Linked DNA regions of Homo sapiens: region 1 is linked to region 2. Evidence: fine-mapped expression QTL. Tissue or cell type: whole blood. Region 2 holds a variant in brackets; the other region holds the start of a gene. All regions are shown on one strand. Distances are from middle to middle.

Region 1 (5,037 bases), 140 kb before region 2:
CGGCTCAATAGAGCTGTGGACAGGGCCCAGGGAGGTGAGGCATAGGAAGTGTTTGTCCCATGCAATTTGGCCACATCTTTCACCTTAGAGGCTTCGCTTAGCTGTCTGGGGTCTTCCCACTTTCAAAAGGACATTGCTCAGAAGCTGACAGGAGCCCTGTGTGAGTGAGCATTTAACTGTGGCCTCTGTGGATGGACGCCTGGTTGCTTGTTGTGGGGCTCATGCTTTTGGGTCTCTTCTCAGCTCTGCAGGAGCCTCTTTCAGTTCTGTTGGAGGTGCTGCTCCAGGAGCTGCTGGGGATGGTGGTGGGATTCATATGGCAGCTAGCATGTGATCCACCAAATCTTTCTGGGACTAAAGGCATGGCTGTGTCTGCTGATCCTGGTCCAGAGACCTGTGTCCCTGCTTCCAGAAAAGAAGTCACCTAGCTGATGGAGCTGGGGAGAGGACCCGGGATGAAATGGGGCCCAGCTATTCCTGACACTTCCGATTAATCTTCTTGTTTTGGACTCTACGTTTCCCATTTCCAGAGGTGAATGGTAGTTCTCATTCCTGAGACTTTCTGGGCTTCCACTGAGTATATCATCAGGCTTCATCTCCACTTTCCAGCTTAGCCTTCATCTCTTTTGCCTTTGCTGTCAGTTACTTCTTGACCACTGGCTTTTATGCCTTTTCAAAGATTCTGTTCTTGTTCTAGTAAAGCAAAATGTGTGTCCTGTCAGCCATTCAGTGAAGGTCTGGCTTTTCAAGATTCCTTGTCCATCATTAGATCATTTCTCTCTTGCTCTTCCCACATCCAGGAACAGCTGCTTCGAACTGGGACCTCTGGCATTTTGTAATAGAGGGGAGTGTGGCAGGGAAGCCCTCTGTCCTGCACAACCTGTTGTTCTAGCCCAGGAGATGGCAGGGTGCGTGGGATGTTCAGGCAAAGGAGTTCACCATCCAGGCTGGGAGCTGCTGGGCAGGGAGGCAGAGGAACACTCGAGCCACCTTTGTGGGGTTGACTGCAGAGGTGGAAGAAGCCACTGTGTCAGACCGCAGAAAAGTCTCATATCTGGAGTCTGGAAGGAAAGCCAAGTTCTCCCAGTCAGTAACCTGCTCTGGACTTTGGATAAGTTACATAATTTCTCCACACTTTGGTTTCTCCCCGAATCTCAGGGTTTGATTCTGTGCTTCCATTTCCCATTCTGTGCCTTGCGATGTTCACTATGTGACATCTTCTCTGAGGGGTGCGCAGTTAGAGTCAAAAGCGCTAACACCTTCAATGTTTCTTGCAGTAGCCAGGCCATATGTGGTCAGCCCGGACTGTGAGAAAAGAAAGCCTTGTGTTACCCTTTGTGTTGTGTTGAAAACTGCTCTTGGCTGCTTTCAGAACCAGCCTTAACTCTGCTTTTGTTTGATCGACTTAAACATATTGGAATTTTGTGGTCATGACCACCGTGGAACCTCTCCTTTTGGAGTGCATATCTGCACTTTTTCCAGCCTCCTCCTCCAGTGACCTTCAGGGGCCTGACCTGGCCTCCGAGCAGTTGGACTAGGGTAGCTTTTCCACTCTTTGAACCCCAGACTGAGATGGGGTTTTCCCAGCGCCCTGCCCCTTAACGTGTGTGAATGCAGTATAGGATCTCAGTTTCAGAATCCATTGTCCACTGTTGACTGTTAGGTTCTTACTGCTGTCTACAATGTCTAGCTTTTCCTACCATGTTCTCTGCTAGAGGGGAGTAGAAAATCTGCTTACTGCTTACTGTGGCCTTGTAAACGGCAGTGAATATCTCCAAACGTTCTGTTTTGCTTCCATCATTGCAGGCTCGTGTGTATGTCTGTGGTGTATGTGTGTGCGGGGGTGGGGGAGTATGTGTGATGTGTGTGTGTGGTGTATGTGTGTGTGTGGTGTGTATGTATGTGTGTGGTGTGTATGTATGTGAGTGGGTGGGTGGGATGTGTGTGGTGTGTGTGTGAGGTGTGTGTGGGGTGTGTGTGTGTGTGAAGTGACTAGCACATAGCAGATGCTTGGTATGTATAGGATCTGTTCTTTCCCTCGCTGACTCTCAGTTTAAATGGGACCCTACTTTGTCCTCGTTGTTCAGTAACGTTATGCCTGTGGCTTCCAGAAAGAGCCTCTCCCTTCCTGGTTCTTGCTCTGACATTTTGGGGAGAAGGGTGAGACGAGAGTGATCCTGGAAGAGTAGAACTGGCCGGCCCTGCAGGTGGAAGGTTGCTCGAGCAGGCGGCATCTCTAGCTTGCCGCGGCCGCGATGTCCCCCGCCTGTCTGCGAATGCGGCGTAGCGGGTAGACATGGAGGGCTTTCGGCATCGTCAGAGTGGCCAGTGTGCGCGTCCTTGCCCATCAGGCGGGGGGGCTGTGGGGGAGGAGAGGAGGCAGTGGAGGGAACAAGGGGTTCTTCAGGGTTGCCATGAGAACCAGGGATCCGGGGATTGGGCAGCAGAGGGCCCCCGCCGGGCGTTGGGGCGTGGCCGCGTCACATGGGTTTGGTCCTGGGATTCCTGTTGTGCTCCAGGACCGGGCGCTGCTCCGTCGTCCTCCCGCTCCTCAGGAGCGCCCAGTCCCTCGGAGGCTGAGTATTGCAGCCGGGCGGCAGCCGGCTCCGCGGAGGGGCCCCCGGGCACCTGCGTGGTGATGGCGCTGGGAGCCCCCGGGCACGCTCGGGCGGTGGCGCGGCATCCCACCCTCGCCCGGATGGCGTCCCCAGAGGCGGCGTTGGCCCGCTTTTCGTGCTAGCGCGTTCGCCTGGCGCGCGGTGGCCCCGAGGCCCCGGGTCGGTTTTCTGCGCCGCAGGCCCCTGGCCGGGGCGGAGCCGTGGAGGACCAGCCCGGCCCGGCTCCGAGCGCTGTCCATGCGGAGCGCTGTCCACGCGCCGGGCACTGCGGGGGCCGGGCCCCGAAGCCCTACCCGGGCCGGCGGCGCACACGCAGCGACCCCGTGCGGCCAGTGCTGCCGCCCGCTCTCCAGGTACTCAGGTGGGCTCCGCCGCGGGCGCTGGGCGGTGGGCGGTGGGCGGTGGGCGCGAGCCGGGGCGGCGGGCGGATCGGCCTGCGCAGGCTGCAGAGGCCCCGGCCGCGGCGGACAGGGCCCGGGAGGGAGGCGGGGAGGTCTTGCCGCGCGGCCCCCTGCCCGCCTGCCGCGGGCTCGCTGCAGTCCGAGATCCCGAGCTTCGTTGCCGCCAGCCATAGGACAGTATTATGTAACCATTTTTAATCTTAATTGTTTAATATTATGTAACGAGTAATAACTGTACCCACGGAAACCCGTGACGACGATTCGAGCGAACCTCGCCCGCTCCTTCCTCGCCAGGTGGTGGGCAGCGGGTGTGGGAACCGGTTTGGGAAATGAGTGGATCTGGGCATCCGGGCTACTGCACCGGCTTTTTCTGTGAAAAACATAATGCTAGAGCCTGCCTGGAATTCTCTTAAACCTGGATGGCATATAGTCCGGTATAAAAAAGCTTTGAGTAAACACGTATAGTCAACGTTGCCTCTTTCTCCATGAAAACCTCTTTCTCCCTGGAAGGTGCATATCAGACAATGTGAATTGAGCAGTGAAGATGTGGGCATGGGGTTCGTGTTCTTGATGGAGTTCAAAAAATTGTGCATATGAACACGTAGGACGTCCTAGCCCTTGCTCTTTAGAAAAACAATCGGATCACCTGTTCCACACGCCAGTCGCCTCCTTGGTCGGCTGCCATTTGTCTGTTGATGGTACAGTCCCTGCCAGGGTGCTGGGGGGACCTCGTCTGCGGAGCCGGCACACAGGTGGCTATGGGCGGGGGAGACTGCAGTCTAAACCCGCAAAGCTCTCCTTCCTAGCCCAGTGAGGGGAAGCGTGGGTGTCTTTCCTCATTGTTCTTTTTAAGTCTGAAAGGCAGCGACTGCAGGGATTATGACGTGCTGGCGGCCAGGGCCTCGGGTGCTGCCTGGAGTCTCCTGCGTGTCTCTGCTCCTTTGATGTCAGCATCGGGGGTGGGAGCAGGGCCCACGCATTCCCCCTTTGGCCTGGGTGGGAACAGGGGAGGTGGTGGGCAGGGCCAGAAGGGCTTACTGGGATTTTCTTTCTCTCTGTCACTCCAGAGAAAGGTGGTAAAGAACACTTGTTTCAGTTTGAGGTGCTCGGCAGCCACGCGCTGAAGGACGGTTTTTAATTGTAGGGTGGGGTGTGAGTGCAGTGTGGTTCAGTCCCCTCCCCATCTTGTGCTACCTGCCGTTGTACCTGGACCTGTGAATCAGGGATAATAGTTACTATCTTGTAGGACTGAGAATGGTGCATACTAACTGCTGAGGAACATGGTGAATGGAGTTATGGTAATTGCACGATTGGCATGAAGGGGTGAGAGAAGTTCCAGATTGGTCGATTAAAATGTGAGTTATTTTTAGTGTCTCCTAAGGATTTCCATCACCAGTTGCTCCTCCAGCCATCATGTAATTACCACCCCAGAACTAGGCTTCCAAACTTCGAGAGAACACTGCATCTTTCGAATTTTGGAGGTTAGGCTCCAAAATTTGCATATTTAGGCCACAGCCTAAATTCACTGACACTTGTGTTCCCACAAAAGCCAGGCAGCTTCTTGGAGTATGTACTTGTGACTTAGTAAGAATGTCTTAGGAAACTCGCTTGGACTAGAATGGTTTTACCTTTCTTTCAGACTTGGGAGGCTGCATTCTGATAATTCTCAGGAGGAAGAATGTATAGGAGAGACCAGGGTTTTTAAGGTGTGACCTCTGAACCACCTACATCAGAGCTGACTGCCTCTCGGTATGTATCCCCAGGCCCCAGCTCTGAGCTACGAAACTGACTTTCTGGGCTTGGGACCTGGAATTCTTTGTCTTTGTAAAGCATGCCAGGTGATTCTTACAAGTATAAAGTCTGAGAACTGATGTGGTGTTCTGGGCCTTGTAACTACTGGGGCTTCTGGTGATTCAGTTAGAAAGTTAGCAGCTCCTGTCTGAAGGGTCAAGGGCAGAATGAGGGGAGGCCTTGAGGCAGTATGAGTCCTGTGGACCCTAGGAGGTCTGGGAGCACAT
Region 2 (5,040 bases):
CTGAGGCCTGGGAGTCCCACCCAGAATATTTACTTTGTCCTCTCCTAGTGGAGCGGGAGAGCTGAGAAGATTGCTCTCAAAAGCTTCAAAGAAAAGGACCTGGGACTACTTCAAACAATAAGTCCATTGTTATGTCTCAGTGACCTTGATGACCTCCAGAAGTAGTGTTCTGGGCTCACAGCACACTGCCCTGAAGAAGGGAAACTCTGGAAGCCCAGAGGGAGTAGCTGTAGGAGGGATGTGGTCAACTGGAAAGTCCCCAGGCGTTCTATGGGAGGGGGACCTATGCTCTGCCATCCTTGGGCTGGCAGAGGACTTGGGATAAGGATTCCCAAAGGCAAAACTGAGGATGGGTCTTCCTTACCGCCTTGGGTCGAGGCTCTGCCTTCCTTTCCCTCACAGATTAAGGCAGTGGTTAAAATTACTGCTTTCAGAAGATTATCATTTTCCTTGGTTTCCTAATGCTCCTTTTTAAACCTTTTTAAAAACGTTCCAGCAGCCCAGCTTTTGTCCCCACTGTGCTATTCAATTCCACTTGTTCCCATCAGGGTGGCATCCACATGGCTAAAGCCAGCGGGGTTCTCTGTCTTCCGCTTGCCGGGCCTGCAGCAGCATGAGGGCTCCTGTCGCTCGCTGCTCTCCTTTCCACAGCTCCGTCTGGGTTTCCACCCTCTTTGCTGGACTTTCCTTCTCAGCCATCGTTGCTGGCTCTTCAGTCACTGGGCCTTGGTGCTCCGTCTCCCCTCTCTGCGCTCCCTCCCTGGACAGCCGTGGCCATTCCCTCAGCTTTCCATCTTGTCCCTATGTTGATTACTCCCCGGTTTACATTCCCATCCAAACTCTTCCTCAAGGCCCAGACTCCTGTTTCCAGCTGCCAACATGGCACCTCCATGTGGGTGCTTAAAAGACACTGCCAACGCAACAGGTCCAAAGTCAGCATCTGATCCTTCCCTCCAAACATGATACCTCCAAATTCCCATCTCAGAGCAGCAGACCAGTACCCCCATCAGAATTCCCAATTCCCTTCCTCACTCCTCTTTTGAGTTTCACGCCACCCCAGCCTGTGTACCAGAATTGGACAGCGCCTGCCTGGTCTCTGCTGTGGGACCCAGGCCTGGGCTTTACTTTCCTTGCCTGTGTCGTCATGGGAGCCTCCTGACTCAGCTGGTCCCCAGTTTCTGCCGCCTGGGAGGGAGCATCACAGTCGGCCTGTGGCATCTTTTGCTGCCTTTGAGGACCTTCTTAGCCAGCAGCCCTTTGCTGAATGTTTTTCCTTTGCCTTCTGCCATCTAACAATCTCTGAATTTTGCTTTTTGTCTATCTCCCCTACTTGAATGAAGTTCCATAAAGTCAAGGGGTTTTATTCCAGACCCGAATCCCAGCACCTTGGTGCCTGGCACGGAGAAGGTTCTCAGGGAGCATCTGCTCAGTGACTGACAGTGAGGGCACATCCGCACCCTCCCCATGTAGCTGGGCCTGAGATGGCTTGAAAAGGTTCGGCCAATCTGACTCAAATCTGAAAACATTTTTTCAAATTATAGGTTACATTTTAGGTTTAATGTTTCATTAAAGTTTGATTACCACCAAAGAAACTTTTTTCAAAAAAAGATGTTACTGGTGGAAATCCCTCTTGTAATTCTGGAGCACTAACTATTTTGATCTGCTTTTTAAGTTATAAAATGCTGAGGTTAGATGCCACATCTATATAACCAAGGTCTCTATTTAGACACTGATAGATTCTAAGTGAGTTTGTTTTGTTGTTTTGCTGAGACTGTTGTGATTTCTGTCCGAAGAGAGAATTGGACTCTTCATGCCTAAATGAGCTTTCTTCCATTAATAGGCACATTTCATCTTATGCTCCACACTTTCTGCCTCTTTTTAGTTAGTGATACTTTTATGGATGCTTGGGGTTGCCGACTTTGTGGCTGGGATGAGTGGAGGAGCCTTGAGCCTGGCTCTGCACCAGGGTTCCTATCTGGCCCCACCGGCCTTACCAGGTGGGATTGGTGCCCGTAGCAGCAGGGCTGGTTAAGTCTCAGTAGATGAGATGGAGGATTGGTTGTTGAATCATTACACCAATTGGTCCAAGAGCTACTTCCTTTTCTGGAGAAAAAGGCCTCCAGGAACATGAATGCATTAGAAGCTAGCATTTTCCCCAGAGAAGTTCACGTGAAAACTTTTTCCCACTCTACCCCCACTCATCTCTTTCCAAAGAAGCTGGTTCATTCAGTCAGGGCGTGACAATTTGCGGAATCTAGCACTACAAACAGGATTCAGAGTCAGGAGTAAGTTTGCCATGACTTATTACCATATCACCTCTATGTCCAACCAGGAGACCAAAAAAAGGAGAACCTATTTTATTTATAAAAGTAACATTCATAGTAAAAAACAAAAAGTGAAACAAATACTACAAAAAGGTATTTGGTAAACGGTGAGATTCACTTTCTTCTCAGTTTCCAACTCTAGTCTCATTCTCCAGAGGTGACACTGCGGACAGTATCTTGTGTATCTCTTCACAAAATTGATGTGCATTGTTGTGATTTCCCCTGCAGCTTCATAGTGTTGTGTTGTATGGAGGTACCGTGATAGATTTACCTCAACCCTCTTTTGATGAACAGCTCCCGGAAACAAGGGCCCCCGTGCTTTCCATTGTGTAACCTCACGTTCTAGGGTGAACGTTGCTAGGGGAAAAGA[C/T]GCTACTGAGATGTTTATATACCATTTAATGGCACATAAGCTTACTTTTGTTTGCAGCTTTTTCTAATTATGAATAGAGCTGAAATGAACATTCTCGTGCATGGGTCCTTGGTCATGAATGGGGTTGTGGATGGATAGACAGATGGATAGGTTGGTTTCCAGCAGTGTCATTGCTGGAGCAGAAGTTTTATGTATTTATAAGTATGTGGGTGGGTGTAGAAAGTTCATTTTTATAAATAATGCCAAGGGCTGTATGTCACTTATAATACGATGGGAAGGCATATGACTTGGGGGCTGGCCACTGGCTAGGACTCTGCAGTTCCTCGCAATGTGGCTTTGGACCAATTCTTCTCACTGCCTAGGGCCTCGCACCACTGGGGCTCTGGTGACAGTTCCCTGGGTGGTGAGGGGACTGTGTCCAGGCAATCTATCACTTTGATTGGCTGTTTCTGTAGTTTCAAGAAACTCTAGACGATGTTTACTGAGCCTGTCTGGGAGCAAATGGACAGACCCCAAGAGGTCTGATACGACGGCGTTTGCTTTCAGATCTGCCTGGAGACCTCTTGGAGTCTGAGAACTCCGGGCGATTGGAGGATGGGGGTAAGATGTGCACAGTCAGTTTCAGGTACTTATTCTTCTTGGTGTTAGACCTTCTGAGCTGGTGCTCAGCAGATCCTTTTTGTTTGCTTGGTTTTAAAGGAGTTAGTGCCCAAATGGCAGTGTTTTTGGCTCATGTTTCTTCCCTGCCAGCCCAGCAGACATACTCCCCAGATGGCTGAAAGCTGCTGTGGGTCACTGGTGATTTTTGCATGGGTTGTGTGGTTTTTAGTACTGAAAAAGTAGCAGGCTGGGAGTCCAAGGGCTGCCAGTGAGTGTGTTCTGCTTTTTCAAAGAAATCTCCATAGTTTCTGTTTTGCCTTTCCAGTTATCAGTATTTTTGTGATTATATAATCTCATTTTGATGGTATGTAAGCTTGCTTTTTAAAAAATGAATTATGGGCAGTATAAAGATTATTAGCGTCAACTGTATTCATAGCAAATATATTTTGGAGATAAATCGGGATTTTGAGGGTGAAAATTTTATCTTCAAATACATTTTCTGGCATGTTGTAATTGAATAAAATTATAGCCCTAAATGATAGCTCCATTTATGAAATTTTTCTCATGGCTGTCATTTTCTGCGTCGTCCAGACTGGAGATGGTACTGGGGATTATAGCCCTTTTGCAGTGTTTTAGCCATCCTGTGCCTGCTGTGTCTCTCAGCTTCTCAGACTTCACCGTTTGTGAATCTGCCAGTCTTCCTTCACCAACTGGTCCGCCCATCCCATACCCAGCCCCTTCCACCTGTCTGTCATTGTTCTGTCTGTCTAGCATCTGCCCACACCTTCTTGGTCATGGGGCCTTAGCAGACAGGACAGCCCTGCTCCACTGGCCAGTGGGTGGTGGCCCAGTGGGCTGTGTAGAGGCTGATGTCCCGCTCTTGCTAGTTCGGTGCTGTGATCCAGGGTACCGCTTTCACAGCAGGCCTTACAGAGCTTACCTGAGGTTCCCTACTCAGGAAATCACAGTTAGACCTGTCCTGCTTACTGATGGTCTCAGGTGAGAGTTTTTCTGAAACGGAATGCCCATCAGTCAGTGACAGGGTTTGAAATAAGACATGAAGGAGAAGTTGTCCTGATAAAGACAGTACATTACCATAAAAGTAGACTGATGATACTGCATGCGTTTCAGGTTGCTGGGGGGCTGCTTTTGGGCTTCCAATACAAGAGGGAGGAAGAAGGCAGTGGAAGCGGGTGCTACGTCCCTTCCCTATCTGTGTCCCTGAGCTCGGCCATCACATAGCCACCAAATAAAGAGCTCGGGCATGGACTAGGGGACCCTGTGATGGTCAGCTTGTGGGACCTCACTGGGCAGGTGAACACACACCTATAGGGACCCAGTTCCAGGGCCTGGACTCAAGGAACCCCACCTGGACACCTGGGATATTTTGTTGAACCCATTGAGCTCCTAGTCTGTGATTGAGCCACACTGGCTGAGTGTTTTGGACATAAATATCCGGGATAGTGAAGACAACTGCTGAATGGAAAAGAAACAGAGATGCTCCTGGTGAAGATAGCCCTGAAACAAGGGCCCCCATGCTTTCCACTATGTAACCTCATGTTCTGGGGTGATCGTTACTATGGGAAAAGATACTACTGAGATGCTGAGTGAAGAGAGGAGAGCCGCAGGTCATTATTTTCACGCACGTATGTTTCTTTAAACTTTTATTTTGAAAAAATTTCAAATGTATAGAGAAGTTGCAGTAATAGAGCAAAGAACTCTCATATATTCTTTACCCTGATTCCC

The links. PIP is the estimated chance that this variant, and not a neighbour inherited with it, causes the effect.
Region 1: it holds the start of GRB10, and the variant in region 2 is fine-mapped to the expression of GRB10 in whole blood (TOPMed, PIP above 0.99).

What each region holds. Positions count from the first base shown.
Region 1 is chr7:50,780,358-50,785,394 of GRCh38, reverse strand. GRB10 (growth factor receptor bound protein 10) reads left to right here and starts at 2,499. Exons shown (of 19, transcript NM_001350814.2): 1 at 2,499-2,971; 2 at 4,659-4,768.
Region 2 is chr7:50,643,853-50,648,892 of GRCh38, reverse strand. The region is part of intron 7 of GRB10 (growth factor receptor bound protein 10); the gene reads left to right. It overlaps LOC124901632 (a long non-coding RNA gene), which reads right to left. Exons shown (of 2, transcript XR_007060323.1): 2 at 4,944-5,040. Among named protein-coding and RNA genes, the nearest start is that of DDC, 81 kb to the right of the region's middle. The variant C/T (reference allele first, on the strand shown) is at 2,695.